2 separate regions of the Homo sapiens genome follow, and region 2 is linked to region 1. The links come from fine-mapping of genetic effects on gene expression. A gene starts in region 1. The other region holds a variant in brackets. All regions are shown on one strand. Distances are from middle to middle.

Region 1 (15,653 bases):
CCACGCCCAGCTAATTAGAGTATCCATATTTTTAAGTAGCTGTGAGTGATTAGGAGAAAAATACTTCAATGAGCTCTTGGGCTTTGTTCTGAAGTCGAAAGGGCCTAGTAAAAATGTGTAATCTCCATCCTGGTTTTGGTGTTTGGGGCAAAAATAGTGCCTAATGTTGCACAACACTGTGTGCTCTTGAGTGTAGTTTGCGGATGAGTTATATTAATGAATACACATTGTGATAGAGGTGTGTGTGTGTGTTTCCGTGCTTTTTTTTTTTTTTTTTTTTTTGGAGACGGAGTCTCATTCTGTTGCCCAGGCTGGAGTGCAGTGGCACAATCTCGGCTCACTGCAACCTCTGCCTCCTGAGTTCAAGCGATTTTCTCCTGCCTCAGCCTCCTGAGTAGCTGGGATTATAGGTGCCTGCCACCATGCGCAGCTAATTTTTGTGCTTTTAGTAGAGACGGTGTTTCACTATGTTGGCCAGGCTGGTCTCGAACTCCTGACCTCAAGTGATCTGCCAGCCTCGGCCTCCCGTATTGTTTTTAAATGGCTTGTTGGATAGGCTTGATGAAGTGTGCTGGATTATTTCCTCCATTGTCTCCTGTTCTCTCCCTCCCACAGCAAGACTAGAAGAGCAACAACACACTTCTATACAGGTCTCTAGTAGTCTCTTTGGAGGGGTAGGCCAATAAGAACCAACCTGCTGGTCCCTACCCCCAACCCCTCTGGTGACTTCTGAATCCAGTTTCAATATTGTTAAATTTCAGGGAAGAAAGTGATAATGTGGAAAAGTGCCAAAACTCAGTCTGATTTTTCCTGGCAGCTTTCCCTTGGTGTCATTGGTAAGTTCCGCATTTCACTGGAGTGGAGTGCCACACTGCTACTATGACTATAGTAGTCACTCCCACGCCTGACTTTTTTGTTTGGTCCATTTTATCTTTAGGAATAGGCATTTTCTGTAGGGATAGATGGGTTTAAACCCTATTAAAGCTAGTCAGAATGTTTTTCATTAGGGGCCACTCAATTCCTGTCTTATACCTAATAGATTTCTTTGGATTTTCTTTGATTCTTATACAAAAACACCCAGTATCATCATGCTGGAGGATTCTCTTAAGGTGGTTGCTTTGCAGAGAACAGACAGCACATTTGCTTTTTTAGCCACCTATCCTATTTCATAGGACTGCATGCCTGCCTCCCTCCATTTTGTCTGTGCTTACACTGTTTTTTCCTTCTCTTTCCAACTCTTCTACAGAACTTGTGTTGGAATAAAAGACTCCATTCCAGATCCATTCCAGAGTTGCTGTGAGAAACTTCCCCACTGACTCTTTTTCCTAACTCAGTAAAATGGCAGTGTAAGAAAGCTTTATGCAGGCAAGGGCTGAAAGAAATCTCCACCTAGAATACAGTGTTTGATTTTTCCTTCTGATTTTCTTGTCAACTCTCAAAAACTTCCCTTATAATCATTTTATATGTGTGAAATTTCCCTAGGTTGGTTTTAAAGAACAAAACAAAACAAAAGCAACCTACATTGGTTTAACATGGGAAATCCTAGATAACAGACTTTTCCTGTTCCTGGGCAATAGCCTTCTGTGCTAAGATTGGTGACCTTACCTTGGTAATATTGTTGGTGCTTAGCCTTCCAGATCTAAAAACAGCTTAGTGTAATAAGTACCAAGCACAAAATTGTTAAGTTTCTCTTTTGATTGACTATGAAGAGGCTATCAAGCTTTTTTTTGTTTTGTTTTGTTTTTTGTTTTTTGAGACGGAGTCTCCCTTTGTTGCCCAGGCTGGAGTGCAGTGGCGACATCTCAGCTCACTGCAACCTCCGCCTCCCCGGTTCAACCGATTCTCCTGCCTTAGCCTCCCGAGTGGCTGGGATTACAGGCGGGTGCCACCACGCCCAGCTAATTTTTTGTATTTTCAGTAGAAACGGGGTTTCACCGTGTTAGCAAGGATGGTCTCGATCTCCTGACCTCGTGATCTGCCTGCCTCGGCCTCCCAAAGTGCTGGGATTACAGGCGTGCGCCACCACGCGCGGCTCAAGCTTTAAGTAGGTTTTTCATACAGTATTTTTTGTATTAGTTGGTGAATACAAATCTTCAATGAGCTCAGCAGAAATAAGAAATCCAAATTTCCTGATCTGCCCAGTGGTTTTATGAAACCCCAGTCCCGTTTTTTTGTTTTTTGTTTTTTTAAAAAATATTAGTAGTAGCTTTACTCAGTCTTTTCCACAAAAATAAGCTCACTGGTCAGCAAGCTCACCAGTGAGACTGGTGAGTGAGGCTGTACTTAGAAGAATATGAAAGCCTTGGTATCTTTTTCCTCATATTAGACTGGCCCTGGGTGTTATTTTTGTTTGAAACCTGCCACAAGCCAGACCAGCCTGGACTTTTACTTATTTTATTTTTTATTTCAGTTTTGGTGGAGGTGGTGGTGAGGGTAATTTTTAATTTATATTGAGACAAAATAAGCTGGCTGACTTATGCCTGAGGCTCTTTTTTTCACAGCTACTTTGGGGAAAAAAAGTCTCATTCAGAAATTAACATTTCTCAAAATGTGTTCCTTATTCTGAAATATAAATGACCCCAAATTGCTTAAGAGTTTGAGATGAGTGGGGAAAAGATCTAGAAAAGCATTTATTGTGTGCCAACCAAGTTTGAGGCCTCCTGGTTTGCTCCTTTGGGATTCTAGATCCTTGGCAGTCACAGTTTTACCGCGAAGAGCTGTTGAATGCCATTCCGAGTTCATTCCATTTTTCTCCGTGTGTGCATCCAGTTCGTATTTTACAGCTCCCGTATGGGAGCCGGTAACATAATGAATTGCCTTGACTCTCGCTTCAATCCACTTTCCTCGCTTAATATGCAGCCCAAAGTTTTGCAGCTCGCTGTCAGATGGTAGTGCTAGACTTTCACACCGATCCCAAAGCCTCCGCTGGGGCTGTTTCTTAACACGGAGTTACAAACTTTAAGAACAGACAGCTCCAGACGGAAATCCACGCCAGGCTTTGAACTCTGCTTCTGGCTTCCGTCAACTGACATAGTTGCCCTTTTGCTCAAACTCGCAGCTCCAGTTCGCACTCGAGAGAGCTCTGCTGGGTGTCTGCTGCTGTTCCGCGGCGGGAACGTGTGGGGGCAACAACCTGGCGCTCCAGCGATTCTCCACGCCTTAGTTAGGAATCTAAGCAAACCCTCGCTAGGGTCCCTGGGCTTAAGACGACTTCTCCCACAAGGATTGGGTGGAGGAAGGAGCCGAGCCCGATCTTCTGTTTGTTTGTTGAGTTTTGTATTTCAGACATTTAGGGGAAGCAAATTGCGAGAAAGGAAGGGCTGTCTTCCCTGCAAACGTTTCCCTCTCCTAGCAAACCCTCCAGGCCTCGGTTCCACATTTTGCAGTTGACTCTCTGGATTTTAATAGGTTGTTCCCTTGTCCTCGGGCCCAATCCATGCACGCTGTGCAGCCGGATAAAATGGGAGCACATCCTCTGCCATTTTCAGCCGGTTTGTCCTGGCAGCCCTGCCCCCTTCCTTGGCTGCTCTGCCGCTGGAGTTAATACGCCCAGAAACTCCGCCTGATCCTCCAGGCCTCAAATCCAGTCCGCGTTTGCTAAGTGCCGTGCGGTCGGGGACGGCGATAAGAACTCTCCTGTGAGGGAGAGCTAGCGAGACTTTAGTCCGGTTTCCATGTCAACGATTCAGTCCATATTTGCCATCAGGCTGTTGGCCGAGGTGCTTTCGCGAGGGTAGCGCTGTCCTAGTCCTAGTTCTCCAATCTGCGCCGGGATTCCTGAGCTGCCTGGGTGTGGGGTTAAAAGGCAGGGGCCGTGGGGGAAAAAACTCCACCGAAGGGAGGACCCACTGCCCCCAGCCGGGGTCTCGCTGCTCGGGCCAGCCACGTGCCCAGCTCCTCCCCTCCCCCGCTTTCCCGTTGCCACTGCCCCTAGGGAAAGCTGATGGGCCAGTTTCTAAAAAAGTTCCCTCAGCCCAACATTTCCTGGGATCGTGGTGTGGGGCTCTAAAAGTAAAAGTGGAAGAGAACCCTAGTGAATTAAAAAAAAAAAAAAGTAGAGAAATTCCACATTATCTCCTCCAACCCAGGTGGATAGATTTTTGTGCACTTTACCTTATTGCTAGAGAAAAATGGTGACTGTTTTCAAAACAGCTTGCCCACGTGTAGGGAAGGAGATTTTTGGCGCTTTCCATATTTCACAGCCATTGAAGAAAGGGGATGAGGGCTTTCTTTGGAGAGAAATCCATTCTAGCTTCCAGATTTTCACTGGGCTCCAGGTTTCCCATTACACCCCAGCTCTAAGGAAAATGGCAGAGTAATGGCATGTAAAAAAATCCTCATTTGTGTGCAGGACTCAGGACTGTTTGCCAGCTCAGGGGCAGTTGATTAAATAGCCAAGCTCTATTTATGAGGCAGCCTATAATTTGGTTTCTAGGACCTAATGCACCGGGGAGAGTTGTTGCCCCTGAGGACTGTGAGTGAAAAGAGGGCACTGGCCCATACCAGTCAGTCGGATCTTCTTGGTAGGCTGGTTTGGTTCTTGGCTTGAGGCCGGGGGAGGGGAGAAGAATAAAACTGTGGGATTTTTTTTTTTTTTAAATCTCATCACTCTTAGATTAACAGGAAGGTTTTGCCTTTCTGGTGTAGGATGCAGTAAGTTTTCTTGGGGAGAGAAATGAGTTCAGGCTTTGGAATTATTCATAGTGACCAGGGACATTGCCAGCACTCCCGGGTCCTGCATAATCTAAGATAATGCTCCTGTGGCCATGAAGTCTCCCTTTACAAAATCTGAGGGGGAAAAGAGATCCTGGTGTCTAGGAACACTGGCCTGGGCCTTTCCCAAGGCAGCCTTGGGTCTGGTGAGGAGCTGGAATCCCCTCTGGCTTTTGTAGCCTGTCATATCAGAACATTCCAAGTCAGCCTGAGGAAGAAAAGGCTGCTGCTGGGATTTGGTGGGGCCTGTAGATCAGGAGAACACTGGAGCTTTCTGTGTATGTCGATCTTTTCAGATAAACCTGGCCTTCTACCCAACTCCAGCTCAATCGGGGTCTCTTAGAATGTAATGGTAAACTTTAAACAATCTTTACGCTACAGGATAGAAAACAAATCTGACAAGCATCCATTTTCTAAGTGACTTGTTGGACTGTGCCTTTTCTTCAAGGAGAAAATGGTTTCCATTTTCTGCATCTCTCTTCTGTAATGGTTTGAACACTCAGGTTCCTGCAGTCCCTGGAGCCTCTTCTGTGGGTTTTCAGTATTAGAAGGTACTGTCTTTGGAGACTGGGGCTACTTGTCATGGTAGGCTAAGTTTTCTTAAGAGGGAGTGAGAAACGGTGTTTAGGTTTTCCTGCTGGGTAACTGTTCTATGCTCCTAAAGCAACTTCAGTGGCCTCCATTTTAAGTTAGTGGTGAGATGATCAGTTTTGACTTCAAATCCATTTTGATATTCTGATCCCATTGTTGAATGTGCTCACAACTTGATTTTTTTTTTTTTAAAGGCAAGTAGACCGAAGGCAGCTTTGGTGACTCCACTTCTTTTTAAAGTCACCCTCCTCTGCCCTCTGACTTTAAGTGACAGGCAGTTCCCTCCCCTCTCTTTCAATTCTGTAAAATGGGGATAATCCGGACCTCATGCCCCCAGAGCCTTGTAAGGACCGGCTAATGAGGGCAGGCGAGTGGGAAACGAATCGTCTGAACAATGATCAGTCATTCTTTCGGGCTTGCAAAGAGGGTAAAAAAGGTTGGGTCTTTAGCGGGGTCCGTAGAAGGCTTTGAAGACGAAAAGTGCTGTAGAGGTGCTAAGCAGCAGCCAACGGACCGGGCCCGCTGCCAGGGGGTCAGGGCTGGGCCGAGGCGGCCGCGGTCTCAGGCTCTGGCCAATTTTGCAGCCGCGGGTAAAGTTCACGCTGCCCGCTCCCCTCGGTACGGCCGGGAGGGGACAGACCTGGATAGGGACGCCGGGAGGGAGGCGGCGCAGGCTCCAGAGATGCGCGGGCTCCGGGCCGGGTTTTCTCCGAAGCCTTCGGCGGCGGCGCTGCCTAGCGAAAGCGGCTGAGGGCCTGCCGCCGCCGCGGCTTGTTCTCTCCCCTCCTCCTTTGTGAAGGGAAGGGAGCGAGTCCGTTCCACGGCCTGCGCCCGCTCCGCTCTCCACTCCGGGTTTGCCAGGCGGCCGCGACGGCGCTGGGTAAAATGGCAGTGCTGAGCCTCGTGTCGGAGTGAGGGGGACTCGGAGGAGAGTGGGGCGCTCTAGCCGCTCAGTCCGGCCGACCGCTTGCTCGCCCGCCCGCTGCCGCGCAGCAGCCTCGACCCAAGCCGCAGCTGGCGAGGGGAGGCAGGGCGCCGGGCTCGGCCCGCGCTCTGACTCTGGCTCCCGGCGCCCCGGCTGCTGCCGCGCGCCCTCCAGCCCGCCCGTCCCGGGTCCCCCTCCCCCCGCTCCCTCCCTCCCTCCCCGCCCCCTCCCCCTCGCCTCCCTCCCTCCCTCCCTCCTCCTTTCTCCGGCAGCAGAAAGCGGAGAGTCACAGCGGGGCCAGGCCCTGGGGAGCGGAGCCTCCACCGCCCCCCTCATTCCCAGGCAAGGGCTTGGGGGGAATGAGCCGGGAGAGCCGGGTCCCGAGCCTACAGAGCCGGGAGCAGCTGAGCCGCCGGCGCCTCGGCCGCCGCCGCCGCCTCCTCCTCCTCCGCCGCCGCCAGCCCGGAGCCTGAGCCGGCGGGGCGGGGGGGAGAGGAGCGAGCGCAGCGCAGCAGCGGAGCCCCGCGAGGCCCGCCCGGGCGGGTGGGGAGGGCAGCCCGGGGGACTGGGCCCCGGGGCGGGGTGGGAGGGGGGGAGAAGACGAAGACAGGGCCGGGTCTCTCCGCGGACGAGACAGCGGGGATCATGGCCGCGCAGGTCGCCCCCGCCGCCGCCAGCAGCCTGGGCAACCCGCCGCCGCCGCCGCCCTCGGAGCTGAAGAAAGCCGAGCAGCAGCAGCGGGAGGAGGCGGGGGGCGAGGCGGCGGCGGCGGCAGCGGCCGAGCGCGGGGAAATGAAGGCAGCCGCCGGGCAGGAAAGCGAGGGCCCCGCCGTGGGGCCGCCGCAGCCGCTGGGAAAGGAGCTGCAGGACGGGGCCGAGAGCAATGGGGGTGGCGGCGGCGGCGGAGCCGGCAGCGGCGGCGGGCCCGGCGCGGAGCCGGACCTGAAGAACTCGAACGGGAACGCGGGCCCTAGGCCCGCCCTGAACAATAACCTCACGGAGCCGCCCGGCGGCGGCGGTGGCGGCAGCAGCGATGGGGTGGGGGCGCCTCCTCACTCAGCCGCGGCCGCCTTGCCGCCCCCAGCCTACGGCTTCGGGCAACCCTACGGCCGGAGCCCGTCTGCCGTCGCCGCCGCCGCGGCCGCCGTCTTCCACCAACAACATGGCGGACAACAAAGCCCTGGCCTGGCAGCGCTGCAGAGCGGCGGCGGCGGGGGCCTGGAGCCCTACGCGGGGCCCCAGCAGAACTCTCACGACCACGGCTTCCCCAACCACCAGTACAACTCCTACTACCCCAACCGCAGCGCCTACCCCCCGCCCGCCCCGGCCTACGCGCTGAGCTCCCCGAGAGGTGGCACTCCGGGCTCCGGCGCGGCGGCGGCTGCCGGCTCCAAGCCGCCTCCCTCCTCCAGCGCCTCCGCCTCCTCGTCGTCTTCGTCCTTCGCTCAGCAGCGCTTCGGGGCCATGGGGGGAGGCGGCCCCTCCGCGGCCGGCGGGGGAACTCCCCAGCCCACCGCCACCCCCACCCTCAACCAACTGCTCACGTCGCCCAGCTCGGCCCGGGGCTACCAGGGCTACCCCGGGGGCGACTACAGTGGCGGGCCCCAGGACGGGGGCGCCGGCAAGGGCCCGGCGGACATGGCCTCGCAGTGTTGGGGGGCTGCGGCGGCGGCAGCTGCGGCGGCGGCCGCCTCGGGAGGGGCCCAACAAAGGAGCCACCACGCGCCCATGAGCCCCGGGAGCAGCGGCGGCGGGGGGCAGCCGCTCGCCCGGACCCCTCAGGTACACAGCTGAGTGGGGAGGGGGCTGGGGCGAGCGTGGTCCTGGGGGTGGGTGGCGGCTGCGGTGAGCGGGCCACAGCCTTGGGCTCCCCTCAGTCCCGGGCCCCCACTGCTGGGGAGCTGCCATTGTCTGGCTCTTCTCTCTTAAAATGGCTGCCTGTCTGCCTTCCTCTCCTTCCCTCCTTCAGCCTTTGTGTTGGGTTTTTCCAGAGGTGTCTGCTCCTCTTTTTCCTCTCCCCTGGTCCCTTCGAACTCCAGGGGTCTTGATGGGGGTGCGGGGCAGAGTGTGCGGGGAAGGGCCTGGCCGGGGGTGAGGGGGTGAGGGGGCGCTGGGGGCTCAGGTTAGGAGTGTAGGCAGTGGTAGGAGCCCAGGAGTTGAATGAACGTTTCTTTGCTCACCTGCCGCTCCTCTCCGTCCCCCGGCCTTCCTCTGGGCCGCCCCCCATCTGTGCTTTCAAAGAGGGCCCCTAGAGCTCGAGGGGACCTCGAGGGGAGGGCAGGGGACTGCTTGGGAGCTGCTAGAGGCCGGCTGCGGTTCACCTAGGGCAGCCCGGTCCATCTCCTGTCTTAGGCTCCGCCGGCCCAGTGGCCTGGGCTTCTCCCTGGAAGTGCTGGTAAACAGCTGAGTGATTGGAGTAGTAAGTGCAGATTGCTTTGGTTTGGGATTTGAATTATGGAGGTAAAATCCTTCTGTCAAAGCCAGGAGACAGTTGGTCTTAGGTTGACATCCTATCTGTGATCTGATTGGCTCCCCATCTCCTGCTCTTGGCCATTTATAATTGCCTCTGATGTAATGGTACAACAATCCTGATGAGCTCATAAACTTTTACACTCTGCTTTTCTGCCAGTGATAACCCAAACTATCGCTGCCACTATCTGCCTTTTATTCCAGAGCTGAAATTGGCTGTGACCTTGAGGAGGGAGGTTTAAGTAGCAATACTGTATCAGCAAGAGCAAAGCCTCAGACAGCCTGCCCTTGTTACATTGTGCCCAAACAAAAGAGGAGGCAATGGCATTTTGCTTGTACCTTGGATTTATTTTGCTTGTTATGTTTTATGCAGCCTGAAATGAATTCTGTGTTGTCAGAACAGTAGCTGAGTTTTTTCTCTACAATGGGTTTGCTGTTTGTTTTGGTTTTGTGACTTTCCTGATGGTATAAATGACTTCTTTGATGGCTCTGAAGATGCATTTATCTTGAGTAATTTTGACACTGGTTGCTTTGCAGAATTGAAATGATTTTACTGGGCTTTTTATTGAGTGGCAAATGTGGGATCTTTATGGGGGGCCAGAAAACAGTTTTTGTTATTTTTTTTAGAACTGGGAGCTTTCTGAGGAATTTTATATTAGGTTCAAGCGGTCTGTTTTAAGGAAGACTGGCCTCATTCTTTGTTTACATGTTGAATCTTGTTAACACTTTCTTTTGTTAATTGAACTTTGGAATAGCAGCTTAATTTAAAGGGAAGCTGGTGTCTTTCATGATCTTGAGGGACTTTCTCCTAAAGGCTTGGTTTGGTGAAATTGTTTTTTTCCTGGAATAACAAAAAGTCTAGTTTTCTGTTTTGTCATCAGTCATTTTAGAGCTTTGAAATAGAGACTGGCCAGTTTATTCCTTTGCATTTTAATGTATGTTCCACTTTTTTTCTTGTCTTCCAAGATATGAAGATACGACCTAGAATGACACTTAAGATTTGCTTAGAAATTGCAACTTCTGAGTACCTTGTTACACTATTCTATCTTGTTTTATTTTGTTGCTTTTCTTCCATCTTCATCATGCTCTGTCAGCAGTGCTTTTGGTCAGGGATATTGAGTATTCTGTGGAGTCATACATGTTTTCAAAGAGGGGGAAGCTCCATTCATCCCCTCCCAAACCCCTTGCGCTTTTGTGCTAGGAGGAAATTTTGTTCACTTACTAGCTGTATTCCCAGCCCATCCTAGAGCTACTTTACTACTCTTTTGAGCTGGGGATTTTGAAATTAGCTGTGTTAGATGGTGGGCTTGGAGCTCTGTGCCTTGATTCTACATCTTCCATGATGTTCTGCATCTGGACAAGAAATAGGGAAATGTTACATTGTTTTTCTAGTGTCTGGAGGAAAAGTTTTGTCTTAAAAGACAGCATCCTCTTGTCTCTGGGTCATCCTATAGTCTGAACCTCTTTCCTCTCATTCCCCTTGTTTTGTTTGGTTTTGGCTGAAAATTTTACTTTTCTTGAAAACTATTAGAATAAGTCATTTGGGGTAGTAAGTCAGGGTTCATTTAAAAGCAAAATTGATTGGAATTCTGCTGGTTTGGAAATATTTAGTCAAAGGTTTTAAAGAAAAAGCCAACTCTTTTGGTATAATGATTTTTGTTTTTCAGTCAGTAAATTATGGAACACTTTCTGTGTAGATGATAGGAGAATAGATACAGTCCCTGTTTGGATGCCTGTCTGTGCTGCCTTTGGATGAATTTTCTGATCTCTTTTATTATCACTAGACCCACACAACATAGATTCCTAATTAATTTCAGCTCAGTTGTCTACTCCCCAGAGACCCAGGGAATGGGCTGGTGAGCATTCAGTTGTGTAAGAGACAGTGCAGCTTCCACTTCTGTGGACTGCTTCAGGTGTGTGGTAGTAGTCTAGGTGAGGGTTGTAGGTTCAGACTTTGTTCTGAATTTCTCTTTGCTACTTGATAAACCTCTTTTCAGACCATGATGCTCTACTCTTCAACATTCTTAAATTAAAAAGTCTTGCTCTGTCTCCATCTTTTCCTGGCGCAGTCTTAGATTAAGAATATTTTGCAGAGACTTAATTAACACAGCTAAGGTGATAACGTTTTCATTTGACTCTGCGCTTATGAAATAAAGTTTAGGTAAGTGTGTGTATTGTGGCTATGTCTTTTTCACAGGACCTGGGAAGATCTTAGACAAACTTTTACTTTATTCCTTTTCATAAGTAGTGTATCTCAAGTGTTGAATCCCGGTACTGATGAAATAGTTTTAGATTACTTACACACATGAAGTTGATTTAAGGCTTTTTATTGGGACGCTTTTTAGCAATAATACTTTGAGAGTAATACCAGTTTACCAAGGTAAAAAATAAAATACAATAAATAGTCCAGGAACAAGTTGGATTTTATTGTAGAAGTTTGGTTGTTAGTTTCTACTACGGAAACATCAAATGATATTTCTGACTCCTGGGAAACAGATACAGGAATCCTAGATTTATTATGGGAATGCCTACTGGCAGAAATTCTAGGCTGGCTGAAATACAGGACTCTTGGAGCTCTCTCAAGTAGGAGGGACCAGGAAAACCACACTGAGATGGCACTTTAGTTGTGGGGGTTTCATGTTTCTCTACTGTTCATGAGAGAGCTGGGGTGATGAGGATTGAGATGGTGGTGTGAGAACAGAGAAAGCAGCCAGGACCAGGTTTGGCTTCTTGTGTATTGGGCCCTGTGAGGACTTTTTAGGTTCCTTTCTTTGTGTGTGACATGAGTAACCATGACAAGCAGCACCTGCTGAAACAGGATGTCTTGGATTGCATTAAACATTAATATGTTGGATTGACTCCTGTAGGTGTAATGTCTACAGTAGACCTTTTGCAAAGAGGTTAGTGAACTTTTTTAGAATGAGGGAATAGGCTAACAAAGTAATAGGCAGGGCTCTTTCCTGTTCCCATCCCTCAAAAGGTTGTATTGATTGGCTTCAACTCTCAAAATTCTAGAAGCAACTGAAGCTTGTAAATATGGTAAAAATGTGGTATTCAAATATATTGGCACCGAGTAGTTCTTTTCTGCCAGTGAGCTGTAATACCTGGGGCTTGAATGGAGTCCTGATTCCTGTGGCTTTTATCTCTGGGTTTTTCCTTGTTTAGATTGGTCATTATCATTACTGACGCACACTTACGTTGTTATTACTGATGCATACTTGAGTTGTGTGTTGCGTTAGTGGTAAAGAGCACAGGACTCACAACAGGAGGAGGAAGGAGGAGGCTTAGGTTCCACATACAGCTCCAGATTAAGCTGTGTGACCCTGGGCAGGTCATTTGCTTTCTCTATTTTTCATTTTCTCCCTCATCAATAAAATGAAGTTGGTCTGCATGGCCTTCTCACTCTAAGATGCTACATATCTGTGCTTCCATAGCTGGCTTGTTATGAAGGCAGCTTTCTGTACATAAATCAGGGGTCTTGAGACCATCTTTCTTCCCCTGGACTGAAGGAACTCAAAGCTATTTTCTCCTGGGATTCACAGGAACAAGCTCTGAACAGTTGGGTGCCATTGTGGTCTGTAGACTTTTACAGAAAAAGCTCTACCAGACTGTTGCCTTGAAACTGTTAATCTGTTTGTCATTAGTCATTCCACCTGGCTGGTGGTTTTAAAACACTAAATAGTCGTTGGAAAGTTAGGTAGATTTCATTAAAGCAAGACTTGAAAAATAGTTGCTTCAGGATCCCCAGGAGGCTTTTGCACTTGGGGTTGGGGTGAGGAATGGATATTCATAAGTTCAGTGTTGATATTCTGCTGCTTTTGGGGAGGGGTAGGGAGAGAGAGGGAGCATTAAGCTCTCCAGACTCCTGGTGTTTGGGCAGGTCTAGGTCTGGTTTGGGCAGTTGGTTGTAATCTGAGTGCCTGGACTTGCCCTGTAAGTTTTGCTGAGAGAGAAGCAAATGTTCCTGAGACTGGAAGAGGAAAAGCTGCGTTTCAGGGTCAATTTCATAGGTGCATTTGTTGTTTCTCATCGCTATGGTTTAAAAAACTACATGGTGTGCTTTGCACGTGGTCCTGGAAATGCTATTCTTTCTCTTCTCCAGCACACCTGAATTTCCATTCTTTCTCTTCCTGGCTTAGTAGTTTAGAAGTGTAATTTAGGTATATTAGAGGAAGGAAGCTTCCCTTTATAAAGGAGGGAAAAGGGTAGAGGGAACAGTGTTTGATAATTCTGTGCTTGACACAGCATCTTCTATCGTCTCTGAAGGAACCAAATGTTTCAGAGCTTTGTGTAAATACTTGCTGAGCTGTCAATATGTACCCAGGAGGTTTCTGTAGTAAGATGTAAACTGTTCTATAGAATGTTTGACAGGCAAATTAATAAACAGTTTTCAAGCAAAGATAATGCTAGCCTCCTCATGTGGTGGAGTAAAATAACATTGGGGAAAAAGACTTGGGGATAGGAAAAGGGTAGTGCTGGGGGGCAGTGAGTGTGGAGATAAGAAGTGATCTAAAAAAAAATTGAAATGGAAAGATGCTGCCCTGGTAGTGAAACCTCTGTGGCCCTGGCTGCGTGCTAAGTTCAGGGCATGTGGTATCCTGTTAAAGTCAATTGCAGTTTCATAGTGAAAATAGAAGTTTGGAAAGAAGATCCTGACTGTCAATAGTAAGGTAAGTATTACCCCAGACACTTGGCTTATGAGACTTTGAGGTTTAAAGGGTAGCTTGGTGAGATTATTTTTGGCTTGGGTTTGCATTTCTGGAATATTAGAAAGGAGAAAAAAGATACTGCAACTTGAGTGTGATCTTTATCCTCAATTTTGCTGTTGTGCTGGGGATTATAAGTCCACTACCCAATGGCCTGGGTTTATTTATACAGTTTTTACTGGACTTCTGTGTATCACTTATGATAAAATTAATATGCCTTTACACTCTGTTCCTGGGTCAGTACAAAGTCCAAATATTTGGGGACTCACTACATCTTACTTGAAGGATTATGTGAGTAGATACAGTCTTTGTTTTTGAAATTGCCATTTTAGGATTAAAAACATATCTGGGTTCCTTCAGTGACACATTCTTTTTATGGAAGAAGAAGAAGAATCTATGAATATTTTAGCTGTCTGTCTGTGGTCCTCTTCTTTGGTAGCCTTGTGAGATGACCAGATTTGCCTTCTCAGAATGTCTTTTTTAACTAGATTCATTGATTCTGACACCAGTTTTCTTTATAAGAAGTGTTTTTTACACCAGAGTCCTGGAAGTGCCCTTTTGACTTAGCTGTTTATATAGTAGCAGGGAATATGAATGTAATTATGGTCCTGACTATGATTTTTAGGTTCAGCTAACTTACTACCAAAGGCTATCAGCTTGTTTTAATACAAAACACAAAAACTTGGATTGGCACTGACATAGGTTGCTTAATATTGCATGGTCCTTTCCCAGTATGTTGGTAGTGAGGGTATTAGGAACTTCAGACTTATTGCTGAGAGCATAGTTTCTAAGTCAGAGAGATCAGGAAATTCCAATGGGGATGGGAAATAGCCCTATGTGATTACACCAGCTAGGTACTAGGAAGAGATTTAAAAGGTAGAAACAATATCTCCTTCAGAGGCATTTAGTTTTCTTAGGAAAGCATGCTTATGTGCACACATCTGGAAAACTTGAAAAGCAAGGTTTCATAAATGGATGTAGACCACACTAATTATGTGAGCTGAAGGAATTAGAGGAAAAGGTTCAATCAGTTTGGCAGGGTTAACCTGGGACAGCTTTTCAGAGGCTTTTTTTGTGAAGCTAAATGTTCAAGAAACTTAGAATACTAATTTGCCTTTTCATAATGCTATTCTTAAGTTCCATGGGCTTGATAGAATCCACATTGCACATCCATCTCCAGACCAGTAGCTGTCTCAGTGTTCCAATGACTTTGAGAATTTGGACTCTAACCATAAAACTCCCTGAAAGAGTGGTTCCAGGGTCTTAGTGGTTCTTGTGGTCAGGTAGAGCCTTTGGTACAGACTGTTAAGTTCTTGGCTAGTTCAGGGGCACTTTTCTAGTAAATTTGGATTTGGAAGGTCATGTCACCTTCAGAGTTGTGTGCCCTGGACAGCTCTGTAGTAATGGTGGTTCAACTTTGTTGGTGAGTCTGTCTTGGCAGAGTTAGTTGACCTTTCTTAAAACAAGAGCCACGAAGTAAGTATCTGTTGGGACTCTTAGGCTGCTATTTCTGAGGAGCTGGGAGCTGTGTTCAAGTCAAGTTGCTTGTGTTAGACCTTATATTGAGGTTGATGGGTTAGGTAAGCCTGCACATATGCAGTCTGCCCATTTATTCATAGAAATGGCCTTTAATACTGTTTTTGGCCGGGCGCGGTAGCTCACACCTATAATCCCAGCACTTTGGGAGGCCAAGGTGGGAGGATTGCCCAAGCCCAGGACCAGCCTTGGGACCAGGCTATTAACATAGGGAGACCCCATCTTTACAAGACACAAAAATTGCTGGATGTGGTGGTACGTGCCTGTAGTCGCAGTTTACTTAGAAAGCTGAGGCAGGAGGATTGCTTGAGCCCAGGAGGTTGAGGCTGTTGTAAGCCATGATTACGCCAGTGCACTCCAGCCTGGGCAATGGAGCCAAGACCTTGTCTCAAAAAAAAAAAAAAAATTTGTTTTTTATTAGGTTACTATGGCCAAGCAGCTAACAAATGCTGCTCACCAATGCTTAATCCTTGTGGAGCCTCTGGAATATAGTGATTTTGGTTTCTTTACCTGCTGGTCGATCTGTGGTTGGGCCTTGGCACTTCACCGGTCAAGGATCATCAGTGGATGCTTAACAGCTGAAGATGCATGGCATGTCCAGTGCCAGGCCACTGTAATGCTTCTACCTGGAGAAGGATTGGTTACACTGCTCCAGTACAGAAGTACTGCAGACCTTTTTTTTTTTTTGAGATGGAGTCTTACTTTGTCACCCA
Region 2 (11,835 bases), 100 kb after region 1:
TTTTTTTTTTTTTTTTGAGACGGAGTCTCGCTCTGTCGCCCAGGCCGGACTGCGGACTGCAGTGGCGCAATCTCGGCTCACTGCAAGCTCCGCTTCCCGGGTTCACGCCATTCTCCTGCCTCAGCCTCCCGAGTAGCTGGGACTACAGGCGCCCGCCACCGCGCCCGGCTAATTTTTTGTATTTTTAGTAGAGACCGGGTTTCACCTTGCTGGCCAGGCTGGTCTCGAACTCCTGACCTCGTGATCTGCCTGCCTCGGCCTCCCAAAGTGCTGGGATTACAGGCGTGAGCCACCGCGCCCGGCCAGCAAAAAGAAATCTAACAGTAAATGCGATTTAATTATCATCCCCCCACTTCCAATGCTCAAGCCATCAGAGTATATCCCTAAGTTACCCTTCGTTGCTGCTGTCGTCTCTGTCAGTGACAGCTAATCCTTGACGGTTTTGGCTCCTGGTTCACTGTCACTCTTCCCAGCACTACTTCTATTGATTTCCTGGTGATTTCATTATTAATGAAGATGATGTGTGCAGTGTCCTGAAAAGAGTCTATCACTTGAGTGTGAGTTCTGGGGAAAGGGTGTTAGAGATTTGAGGAAAGAGAAAAACATGTAACATGTAACAAATTGTTTTCCTAAATGACAACTCAGAACAATAGAAGGCATTAGAAGAGACCTTCCATATGCGCCCATCACATTCTTCAGCCTACCTATGTCTGCACCTTTGTGCTTTCAGTACTGAAGGTTGGATGAACCGTCTGTCCTCTTCTCTAAGGCTGGCTCCTCTACCTTTGTACCCTTTTTGCCTACCCAGCAATTCTCCCCTCTCTCCTGCATACCCTTTTACTGGGTTATTTCCACTAGCATACAAACCTTTACCTCCCACCTTAAAAAAAGTTTTCACTTTACCCCACATTGTTGTTCACCTACTGCCCCATTTTTCTGCTTCCCCTTATGGCAAAACTCCTCAAAGTTTCTTTTCTCCCATTCTCTGTTGAACCCAGTCTAGGTAGACTTCTCTCTCTTCCACTCCATTGAAATAGCCCTTGTCAAAGTCACCAGTTACTTTCACATTGTTAAATCCAGTGGTCAGTTTTCAGCCCCCATCTTACTTGACCTACCAGCAGCATTTAACAGAGTTGATCACTCCTTTTCTTCCCTTGGTTCTAATGCTCTCTTGGGTTCCCTGCCACCTCACTGACTGTTCCTTTTTTTCTTTATTGCTGGATTTTCATCCTCTTTCTAGCCTTCAGATGTTAACATGTCCAGGGTTCAGTCCTCAAGAAGAGTTCTAAGTGTTTTTGAAACAGGGTCTCATGCTGTCACCCAGGCTGGAATACAGTGGCACAATCATGTCTCACTGCAGCCTCAACCTCCTGGGCTCAAGCAATCCTCCCATCTCAGCCCCCCCAAGTAGCTGGGACTACAGGCATGTGCCACCACACCCAGCTAATTTTTATTTTTTTATTTCTAGTAGAGACAAGGTCTTGCTACGTTGCCCAGGCTGGTCTTAAACTCCTCGGCTCAAGTGATCCTTCCACCTCAGCCTCCCAAAGTGCCGGGATAACAGGCGTGAGCCACTGTGCTCAGACTTTTTTTTTTAGTTTTTATAGAGACAAGGTCTTGCTATGTTGCCCAGGCTGGTCATGGACTCCTGGGTTCAAGTAATCCTCCCATCTCAGCCTGCCAAAGTGGGGATTACAGGCATGAGCCTGGCCTTCTTCCTCATTTTATTAAATGGCAATTCTTTTCTTCCAGTTACTCAACCAAAATTCTGGTTTTTCTTTACTCCACAGGCCCTCTTCAATGCCATCATCCCAGATCACCATGCAGAAGCCTTCTCTCCTCCTCGCCTGGCCCCCTCAGGCTTTGTGGACCAACTCGTGGAAGGTCTTCTGGGCGGCCTGTCTCACTGGGATGCTGAACACTTCTTGTTCATTGCTGAGCATGGCTACCTGTATGAGCACAACTTTGCCTTCTTTCCTGGTTTCCCCTTGGCCCTGCTGGTGGGGACTGAACTGTTGAGACCCTTACGGGGGTTACTGAGTCTACGCAGTTGCCTGCTGATTTCGGTAGCATCACTCAATTTCTTGTTCTTCATGTTGGCTGCAGTTGCACTTCATGACCTGGGTTGTCTGGTTTTGCACTGTCCCCACCAGTCCTTTTATGCAGCTCTGCTTTTCTGTCTCAGCCCTGCCAATGTCTTCCTGGCAGCTGGTTACTCAGAAGCTTTGTTTGCCCTCCTGACATTCAGTGCCATGGGGCAGCTGGAGAGGGGCCGAGTCTGGACTAGTGTACTCCTCTTTGCCTTTGCCACTGGGGTACGCTCCAACGGGCTGGTCAGTGTTGGCTTCCTCATGCATTCTCAATGCCAAGGCTTTTTCTCTTCTCTAACGATGCTGAATCCTCTGAGACAGCTCTTTAAGCTGATGGCCTCTCTGTTTCTGTCGGTGTTCACACTTGGCCTTCCCTTTGCCCTCTTTCAGTATTATGCCTACACCCAATTCTGTCTGCCAGGCTCAGCCCGCCCCATTCCTGAGCCTTTGGTACAGTTAGCTGTAGACAAGGGCTACCGGATTGCAGAGGGAAATGAACCGCCTTGGTGCTTCTGGGATGTTCCACTAATATACAGCTATATCCAGGATGTCTACTGGAATGTTGGCTTTTTGAAATACTATGAGCTCAAGCAGGTGCCCAATTTTCTACTGGCTGCACCAGTGGCTATACTGGTTGCCTGGGCAACTTGGACATACGTGACCACTCACCCTTGGCTCTGCCTTACACTTGGGCTGCAAAGGAGCAAGAACAATAAGACCCTAGAGAAGCCCGATCTTGGATTCCTCAGTCCTCAGGTGTTTGTGTACGTGGTCCACGCTGCAGTGCTGCTGCTGTTTGGAGGTCTGTGCATGCATGTTCAGGTGAGGTGGATTCCTGACTGGGATAAGGATGTGAATACAGGCAAAACCCCTTGGCCAAGGACAGGGAAGGCAGCTAACATCTCCCGTTTGAGTGATCCATACTGAATTTATTCATTCAATGACTATTTAGGGTTATTCTTTATGCCAGACTCTGGGTCAGACCTCTAAGGATGAAACATAAATAAGACAAAATTGCGGCCAGGCGCGGTGGCTCACACCCATAATCCCAGCAATTTGGGAGGCTGAGGTGGGTGGATCACAAGGTCAGGGGTTCAAGACCAGCGTGGCCAAGATGTTGAAACCTTGTCTCTACTGAAAATACAAAAATTAGCCGGGCGTGGTGGCAGGCACCTGTAATCCCAGCTACTCAGAAGGCTGAGGCAGAAAATTGCTTGAACCCGGGAGGTGGAGGTTGCAGTGAGCTGACATTGCACCACTGCACTCCAGCCTGGGCGACAGAGTGAGACTCTATCT[CAAAAAA/C]AAAAAAAAAAAAAAAAAAAATTACTGCCTTGGGGGGTCTCATGGTATAAATAGGAGGACAGACATTTGACATAAATTATAGTACAGTGGGATAGAAAAGGGAGTGCTATTTTGAGATTTATTTTATTTTACTTTATTTATTTATTTATTTATTTATTTTTTTAGATGGAGTCTCGCTCTGTTGCCCAGGCTGGAGTGCAGTGGTGCGATCTCAGCTCACTGCAACCTGTGTCTCCTGGGTTCAAGCGACTCTTCTGCCTCAATCTCCCGAGTAGCTGGAATTCCAGGCGCCTGCCACCACCGCCTAGCTAATTTTTGTATTTTTAGTAGAGATGGGGTTTCACCACGTTGGCCAGGCTGGTCTCGAAATCCTGACCTCAAGTGATCTGCCCGCCTCATCCTCCTAAAGTGCTGGGATTACAGGCGTGAGCTACCACGCTCGGCCTGAGATTTTTTTTTTTTTTTTTTTTTTGAGACGGAGTCTTGCTCTGTCACCCAGGCTGGAATGCAGTGGCATGATCTCAGCTCACTGCAAGCTCCACCTCCCAGGTTCACGCCATTCTCCTGCCTCAGCCTCCCGAGTAGCTGGGACTACAGGCACCTGCCACCATGCCTGGCTAATTTTTTGTATTTTTAGTAGAGACGGGATTTCACCGTGTGAGCCAGGATGGTCTGGATCTCCTGACCTCGTGATCCACCCGCCTTGGCCTCCCAAAGTGTTGGGATTATAGGCACGAGCCACTGCGCCCAGCAAGATTTTTTTTTTTAAAGCTCAGATAAAGTATTATGGAGGCGAAGAAGTAGGTAACTCACTGGAGTACTTGAGAAAGGCATCATATTTCAGCTGGGTCCTGAAGAATGAGATTTTCCATATAAGAAGCAGAGGAGGAACATTCTAGGTAAAAGGAAGGGCATATGCAAAAACACGAGGGTTGTGAAAGGACCTGATTGGACTGAGATACAGGAATAAGCACGGAGGATATCTCTGGGATCTTTTTCCCTAATACACAGTTATAGTTATATCCATATTGGTTTCTTGACTGTTGACTTCAGGAGGTTCTCAACTCAGGCAGGCCCCCAATTTCCAGAGGAGATAACCTTAACCAATGTTTTGGGTGGTGGCGGTGGTGATAGAGAGGGATGGGAAAGGTTTGATCTTATATCTGATTTTCTGTTCTTGGCTGTGGCCCCACCCTGGGGACATCTTTTTTCCCCATGCCGACCTCTTAGCAGTTTCTTCCTGTTGGAGTTGCACATTGGCTGTTTCTAAAATTCTCCAAGCTGTATGGATAAGAGACACAGAGGAAATAGAAAGTAGCATTCCGTGTTTTTAGCTAGATTAAATCGTAGAATGTGTGCCAGCAAAGCTTAAAGTTTCCAGGTTAGCTGAGGGAGGCCATTTGGAAACTTGTGTCTGAACTCCAATAGGAGAGAGAATGTTCAAGCAATGGGTCTTCTGCCCATTTCCCTCTGCTTTGCCATCCCATGGGATAAGGGAACCACCTCAGGTTCCCAATCCCCAAATCAATATCACAGAGTTTAGAGTCCAGGCCCTCGGCTAAAATTAGACCCCATAGAGTTTCTAGTATTAATTGGCCCATTATTTTAATAGTAATTAATGTAATTAGTCTGTAGCTATGTTTATTTGTAATATGGAGGATGCCTGTCTGCTGTACATACATCTTTCTAAGACAGATCCTAAGCTGTGTTCAATTTCTTTTCCAGTGTAATACATTTCTAGTCACAGGACCATAGTTCACCCAGCAGTAGAGAAGTCCCCGGGCTGGTCCAATTTGAGTCAGTGACATTCCAGTAAATGTCTGGATATTCCCCTCTCATGATTTCTAGGTTCTCACCAGGTTTTTGGGCTCCTCCACTCCTATTATGTACTGGTTTCCAGCTCACTTGCTTCAGGATCAAGAGCCGCTGTTGAGATCCTTAAAGACTGTGCCTTGGAAGCCTCTTGCAGAGGACTCCCCACCAGGACAAAAGGTCCCCAGAAATCCTATCATGGGACTTTTGTATCACTGGAAAACCTGTTCTCCAGTCACACGATACATTCTAGGCTACTTCCTGACTTACTGGCTCCTGGGACTACTCCTACATTGCAACTTCCTGCCTTGGACATGACCTGGACTCTCCAGGGACAGGTTGGAAGCCAACTTAACCCAGGGGTCTGAAAGTAAAAATACACATTGGAACTGCCTCTGCTGCCCTGGGATCATTACTGTGTCCATTATAATCTTTCTCTTTCTCTTTGAAAGCTGGTCAGGAATGGGAGAAGTGTCAGACACTAGAGAGCCCCTTCTGGTCCTGGCTAGGGCAAATTTTAGACAACTATTTTCTCTGTAAGTGAAGATTGTCGTATTCCAAGTCTAAAATACACCTGGATCTGTCTAGTCAATCAACATAGCAGAGACAGTCTTAAACCTACCATTGACCTGTGTGTAAATTTAAATGTCAATTTATTGAAGTGTAAATTTCATCAAAGGCATTAGCTGACAGGCTGGTAACAGTCCACACAAGATGGTATAGGCCTGAACAGTGTAGTGGCAGTAATAAAGTGGGACCATTTTTTCCAAATGCGACATTGTTTCTGATGTTTTTTTTTATGATTTGTGCATGTATTTTTATATGAAAAAAACTTACAAAGATATGCAAATTAAACTTCTTTCAGTTATACATGCAATGAATTGCCTTTTTAAAAATAATACAGGCCAGGCACGACGTTTCACACTGTAATCCCAGCACTTTGTGATGCCGAGGTGGGCAGATCACTTGAGGCCAGGAGTTTGAGACCGGCCTGGCCAACATGGCAAAACCCCGTCTCTACTAAAAATACAAAAATTAGCCGTGCATGATGGTACACACCTGTAATCCTACTCGGGAGGCTGAGGCATGAGAATTGCTTGAACTTGGAAGGCGGAGGTTTCAGTGAGCTGAGTTTGCGCCACTGCGCTCCAGCCTGGGCAACAGAGTGAGGCTCTGTCTCAAAAAAAGTAAAAAATAAAAATAATACAAATCTTTCCATGTGGCAAAAAGTAAAATAATTTTAAAAAGTTAAAATAATATAAATCAGCTGGGGGAAAAAAGGGTAAGAAGAAGGCATCAGGAACCCTGGATTCTAGTCCTCTCAGTAAAACCCCATTTACCAGCCATGTGACTTGGGAGAGTTTTCAGAACCTTAGTTACCACCTCTGAAACCATGGGAAATGATGATATTCTTCAGGGGGTGGTGGTGAATGATGCAGTCTCTTGTAGGTCCCTTTCTGCTCTAACATCTTAAGAACTGCCTTAAACAACAGAATCACCCCAGTCTAAATGCTAATGTAGAGGCTTAAATGTGTGATTTTAGGAGAAAATATCCAGTTCTCCTGTTTTCAGCAATTAGAAGAAACTCCTCCTCCACCGAGTGCAACTCTTGGGAGTAATTTAGGTGGTCTTTCCTTTCAATGAGGGAAAGCAGTAACATCTGGCAGATAAGGTGCCTGTTGTGCCGTTCTCAGATGCCTGCTTACTTGATCAGTAGACATGGGTCAGAGGCGCCAACACGGCGGCAGGAATTGGTAAATTGTACGTAAGTCCAAGGTGGAATGAAATGGTATCTGCCCTGCTTCCTGGCCCCCGTTTGGTCATGAGCCTATCACTATAATGGTAGTAAGATCACTGGCCCCTGCTGAGCTACTTTTGCCCATTCCTTGAGCCAGACGAGAGTTTGGCTCTGTATCATCCATCACCTCTTTTATTTCCCATTTAAGCCAAAACATCCAGTAAGCAGAAACTCTTCAAAACAGATGGGTAATCATAAGCAGCTTCTGGAAAGCCTCAAGAATTGGAATTTTGACACACTCCCTCTGACCATGACAGAAAGCTCAACTTGCCAGCTGAAGGGAAGCTCCTGGCTGAGCCCCAGCACCCTCTGTTGGAGCTTCTGGTCAGCCTGGCCAATAAGCATTTCCCATCCATCGCCCCAGCACTAGGACAGCTGAGAGAATTTGGTTCAGAGTCAAATGCTTCTGAAAATGTACACACAGATCAGGGCAGCCCTCTGCCTTCTGCCAAGACACCAAGTGCCCTTCTTGGCAAACGATGATCACCCCTGCCCTAGTGTCCCTCCAGTTAGTTGGCAGAAACTGTTCCCTTTCTCCTTGCCAACAGCTGCAAATCCAGAGACTTCCACCTTGCGTGCAGGAAGTGTTGGGGTCCTGTTTCAGCTCTTTATTGCCGAGGTAGGAGCACTGGGTTCTTCGCTCTCCTCTTTGCCTCCTTTTGGGGGATAATCAGGACTGATTATTCCTCTACTGGAAGAGGTGACTCAGACCCCACAGAGTAGGTGTGATGTCACTGCTCTGGCAGTCTCAGTTTAACCTTCACACTAGATCTCATCATGCCCAGAAACCTTGTAACAGGAGCCCAGCTAGGTGGGTGCACCTGGCATGAGCTGGACAAGGTTTTCTCTCTGACCTTGCAGGGATTTAGTTGTTCTCTAAGGAGCTAAGGAATGGGCTGATTTTATGACCAGCAGCTGTCCTTTTACCATCCTATTAACAGTCTCTTTAATAGTCTGGGAGAGGGACATGAAGGACCCAAGGCAGGAAGTTTCCTGTTTACCCTGAGGCCTAACAATGCCACAGCTAGGTGGGGTGTCTACAGTTTCAGAGAAAAGTCATTTCCTTCTGAGACCCTGCTAAAACAGAAACCAGACGCCTCAGCCTCACGTACCTAGAAGTAGATGCTTTTTTTTGTTCTTTAATGAAGGTGGGAGGAGAGTGTTTGACATACCTTTACCAGTCCTCCTGGAAAAATGTTACTTTTATTGAATAGACCCTCTCACTGTCATCTGAAAATGTAATATGTGCAGGCTCAAGGGATTTGAAACTGATTGATTCTTTCAGTAATTGTTTATTAATGCCTATTTTAGGGGAATAAAGATGACTCAGCTATGCCTCCTGTCCTCAAATAACTGTCTAATAAGAGTTGCTAGCAGACACAGAAACATTAAGGCAGAAAGCAATAAATTCTGGGGAGTGAAAGGACACTGAAGCTTCTTGCTCTGTATCTCACTACTTGAACTTTTTTTTTTTTTTTTTTTTTTTTGAGACGGAGTCTTGCTCTGTCACCCAGGCTGGAGTGCAGTGGCGCGATCTCGGCTCACTGCAACCTCCGCCTCCCAGGTTCAAGCAATTATCCTGCCTCAGCCTCCCTAGTAGCTGGGATTACAGGTGCCCGCCACCACGCCCAGCTAATTTTTGTATTTTTTAGTAGAGACGGGGTTTCACCATGTTGGCCAGGCTGGTCTCGAACTCCTGACCTCGTGATCCACCCTCCTTGGGCTCCCAAAGTGCTGGGATTACAGGCATGAGCCACCGTGCCCAGCCCTACTTGAACTTTTTATGATTAGAATGAATTCAAGTTTTATTTGTGTGCTTAGAAAAAGGTAAGTGAGGCAGAGAGCATGTACTCTGTAAGTTTACACGAGATGGAGATCCCTTCCAGCTTGGGATACCTGAAAAGACTTCATGGACCAATGATAGTTGAGCTAGACTTTGAATGATAGGGAGGATTTGAAAGTTCAGGGTACAGAATGAATATAGAAGGCAGGAAATGGAACAGGATAGGACAGGGAGAAACCAGTGTGAATGGAGCTGAGGTCTTAATCTAGGCCTTGAAATCAGCCCCAAGCCCAGCTCTACTGTGTACTAACTGTGTAAACTTGAGCCAGATACTGACTCTCTAAGCCTCAGTTTACTCATCTGTAAAATGTAGATAATAATATCTAGCTCATAGATAAAAGAATAATAACATCTCATAGGGTGGTGGTGGGAATTAAATGTTACCATATGAAAAGTGTTGAGAACAGTGCTAACAAAGCAATAGCTGCATTTTGGACATGTTGGGTTTACGATACCAAGCAGCACATTTATGTGCCAGGAAATGTGGAACTGGAGACCAAGAGAGTGGTCAGGGAACCATGCACACAGACACGGTAATTACAGCAGCCATGCTGTTGGATGGGATTGTCAAAAAAAGAGTGTGGAGAGAGAAGAGAGAGGGGCTGTAAGAGTTTGGGTAGGTTGGCTGGGCGCGGTGGCTCACGCCTGTAATCCCAGCACTTTGAGAGGCAGAGGCAGGCGGATCACGAGGTCAGGAGATCGAGACCATCCTGGCTAACACAGTGAAACCCAGTCTCTACTAAAAATACAAAAAATTAGCCAGGTGTGGTGGCGGGCACCTGTAGTCCCAGCTACTCGGGAGGCTGAGGCAGGAGAATGACGTGAACCCAGGAGGCGGAGCTTGCAGTGAGCCGAGATTGTGCCACTGCACTCCAGCCTGGGCGACAGAGTGAGACTCTGTCTCAAAAAAAAAACAAAAAACAAAAAAGAGTTTGGGTAGGTGGCTCAACCTCTCTAAGCCTGTTTTCTCATCTACAGTGGGGGTGATAGCATCTACCACATGGGCAGTCATGAAGATAAAGCACTTAGCACAGTGCCTGTATGGCAAGAACTTCATGAATGGTAGCTATTGTATTATCATTATTATCATTAAAGGACCAGAAACAAATTGTATCATTGGCGGAAAAGAGAGTTTCAAGGCCAGGCACAGTGGCTCATGTCTGTAATCCTAGCACTTTGGGAGGCTGAGGTAGGTGGATCGCTTGAGCCCAGGAGTTTGAGACTAGCCTAGGCAACATGGTGAAACCCCATCTCTACAAAAAATACAAAAATTAGCCAGGTATCCTGGTGGGCGTCTGTAGTCTCAGCTACTCGGGAGACTGAGGTGGGAGGGTCACCTGATCCCAGGAGGTCAAGGCTGCAGTGAGCAGTGATCACACCACTGCACTCCAATGTGGGTGACAGTGAGACCCTGTCTCAAGAAAAAAGTTTCAAGAAGAAAGAAATGGTTAGCAGGGTCATATACTGTTAAGGAAAGGATGAGAAAAACTATTGAATTTAGGGATTAGGGATATTATCCAAGGTAGGCTAACGGCGATACCAAACAACCGCCAAAACTCAGTGGCTTAATAATAAAAGTTCCTTTCTTTTTTACTTCATAGTCTAGTGCAGGTTTAGGAAGGGAGGTCTGTTCCGCCCAATTATTGGGGACCCAGTCTTGTCCATTTTGTGACTGTCCTGCTCTAGCTCCTTAGAGTCCTCTACTCCCGGAAAAGTGTTTTTTTTTTTTTTTTTAAATTTAATTTTTTTTTTATTGATCATTCTTGGGTGTTTCTCACAGAGGGGGATTTGGCAGGGTCATAGGACACTAGTGGAGGGAAGGTCAGCAGACAAACAAGTGAACAAAGGTCTCTGGTTTTCCTAGGCAGAGTGTTTGTGTCCCTGGGTACTTGAGATTAGGGAGTGGTGATGACTCTTAACGAGCATGCTGCCTTCAAGCATCTGTTTAACAAAGCACATCTTGCACCGCCCTTAATCCATTTAACCCTGAGTGGACACAGCACATGTTTCAGAGAGCACAGGGTTGGGGGTAAGGTCATAGATCAACAGGATCCCAAGGCAGAAGAATTTTTCTTAGTACAGAACAAAATGAAAAGTCTCCCATGACTACTTCTTTCTACACAGACACGGCAACCATCCGATTTCTCAATCTTTTCCCCACCTTGCCCCCTTTTCTATTCCAGAAAACCGCCATCGTCATCATGGCCCATTCTCAATGAGCTGTTGGGTACACCTCCCAGACGGGGTGGTGGCCGGGCAGAGGGGCTCCTCACTTCCCAGTAGGGGCGGCCGGGCAGAGGCGCCCCTCAGCTCCCGGACTGGGTGGCTGGCCAGGCGGGGGGCTGACCCCCCCACCTCCCTCCCAGACGGGGCGGCTGGCCGGGAGGGGGCGCTGACCCCCCCCTCCACCTCCCTCCCGGACGGAGCGGCTGGCCCGGCGGGGGGCTGAGCCCCCCACCTCCCTCCTGGATGGGGCAGCTGGCCAGGCAGAGGGGCTCCTCACTTCCCAGTAGGGGCGGCCAGGCAGAGGCGCCCCTCACCTCCCGGACGGGGCGGCTGGCCGGGCGGGGGGCTGAGCCCCCCACCTCCCTCCCGGACGGGGCGGCTGGCCGGGCGGGGGGCTGACCCCCCCACCTCCCTCCCGGACGGGGCGGCTGGCCGGGCGGGGGGCTGACCCCCCCACCTCCCTCCCGGACGGGGCGGCTGGCTGGGCAGAGGGGCTCCTGGCTGGGCAGAGGGGCTCCTCACTTCCCAGTAGGGGCGGCCGGGCAGAGGCGCCCCTCACCTCCCGGACGGGGCGGCTGGCCGGGCGGGGGGCTGAGCCCCCCACCTCCCTCCCGGACGGGGCGGCTGGCCGGGCGGGGGGCTGACCCCCACCTCCCTCCCCGCCGGGGTGGCTGCCGGGCGGAGACGGTCCTCACTTCCCAGACGGGGTGGCAACCAGGCGGAGGGGCTCCTCACTTCTCAGACGGGGCGGTTGCCAGGCGGAG

Direction of the effects. Alleles are on the strand shown, and positions count from the first base shown. SD is a standard deviation of normalised expression in the study named.
With allele CAAAAAA in place of C in region 2, the expression in lymphoblastoid cells of the gene that starts at base 6,486 in region 1 is lower (large effect, 0.76 SD a copy in TwinsUK).

What was found. PIP is the estimated chance that this variant, and not a neighbour inherited with it, causes the effect.
Region 2: its variant is the best candidate, but not a certain one, in a credible set for the expression of ARID1A in lymphoblastoid cells (TwinsUK, PIP 0.72).

What each region holds. Positions count from the first base shown.
Region 1 is chr1:26,689,530-26,705,182 of GRCh38, forward strand. ARID1A (AT-rich interaction domain 1A) reads left to right here and starts at 6,486. Exons shown (of 20, transcript NM_006015.6): 1 at 6,486-8,011. The coding sequence starts at 6,875. It overlaps LOC124900417 (translation initiation factor IF-2-like), which reads right to left and starts at 6,876. Exons shown (of 2, transcript XM_047439473.1): 1 at 6,688-6,876; 2 at 2,379-6,436. The coding sequence starts at 6,876. The coding sequence ends at 5,750. It overlaps LOC101928728 (a long non-coding RNA gene), which reads right to left and starts at 4,602. Exons shown (of 1, transcript NR_135804.1): 1 at 2,381-4,602. LOC105376888 (a long non-coding RNA gene) reads left to right here. Exons shown (of 3, transcript XR_001737950.2): 2 at 762-836; 3 at 1,247-1,283. RefSeq lists enhancers at 3,156-3,670, 3,387-3,486, 5,319-6,255, 6,256-7,191 and silencers at 6,170-6,499, 6,590-6,749, 7,120-7,449, 7,500-8,099, 14,469-14,763.
Region 2 is chr1:26,792,323-26,804,157 of GRCh38, forward strand. It overlaps PIGV (phosphatidylinositol glycan anchor biosynthesis class V), which reads left to right. Exons shown (of 4, transcript NM_017837.4): 3 at 1,791-2,912; 4 at 5,241-8,337. The coding sequence ends at 5,522. Among named protein-coding and RNA genes, the nearest start is that of PIGV, 10 kb to the left of the region's middle. RefSeq lists enhancers at 7,762-8,011, 11,795-11,835. The variant CAAAAAA/C (reference allele first, on the strand shown) is at 3,387.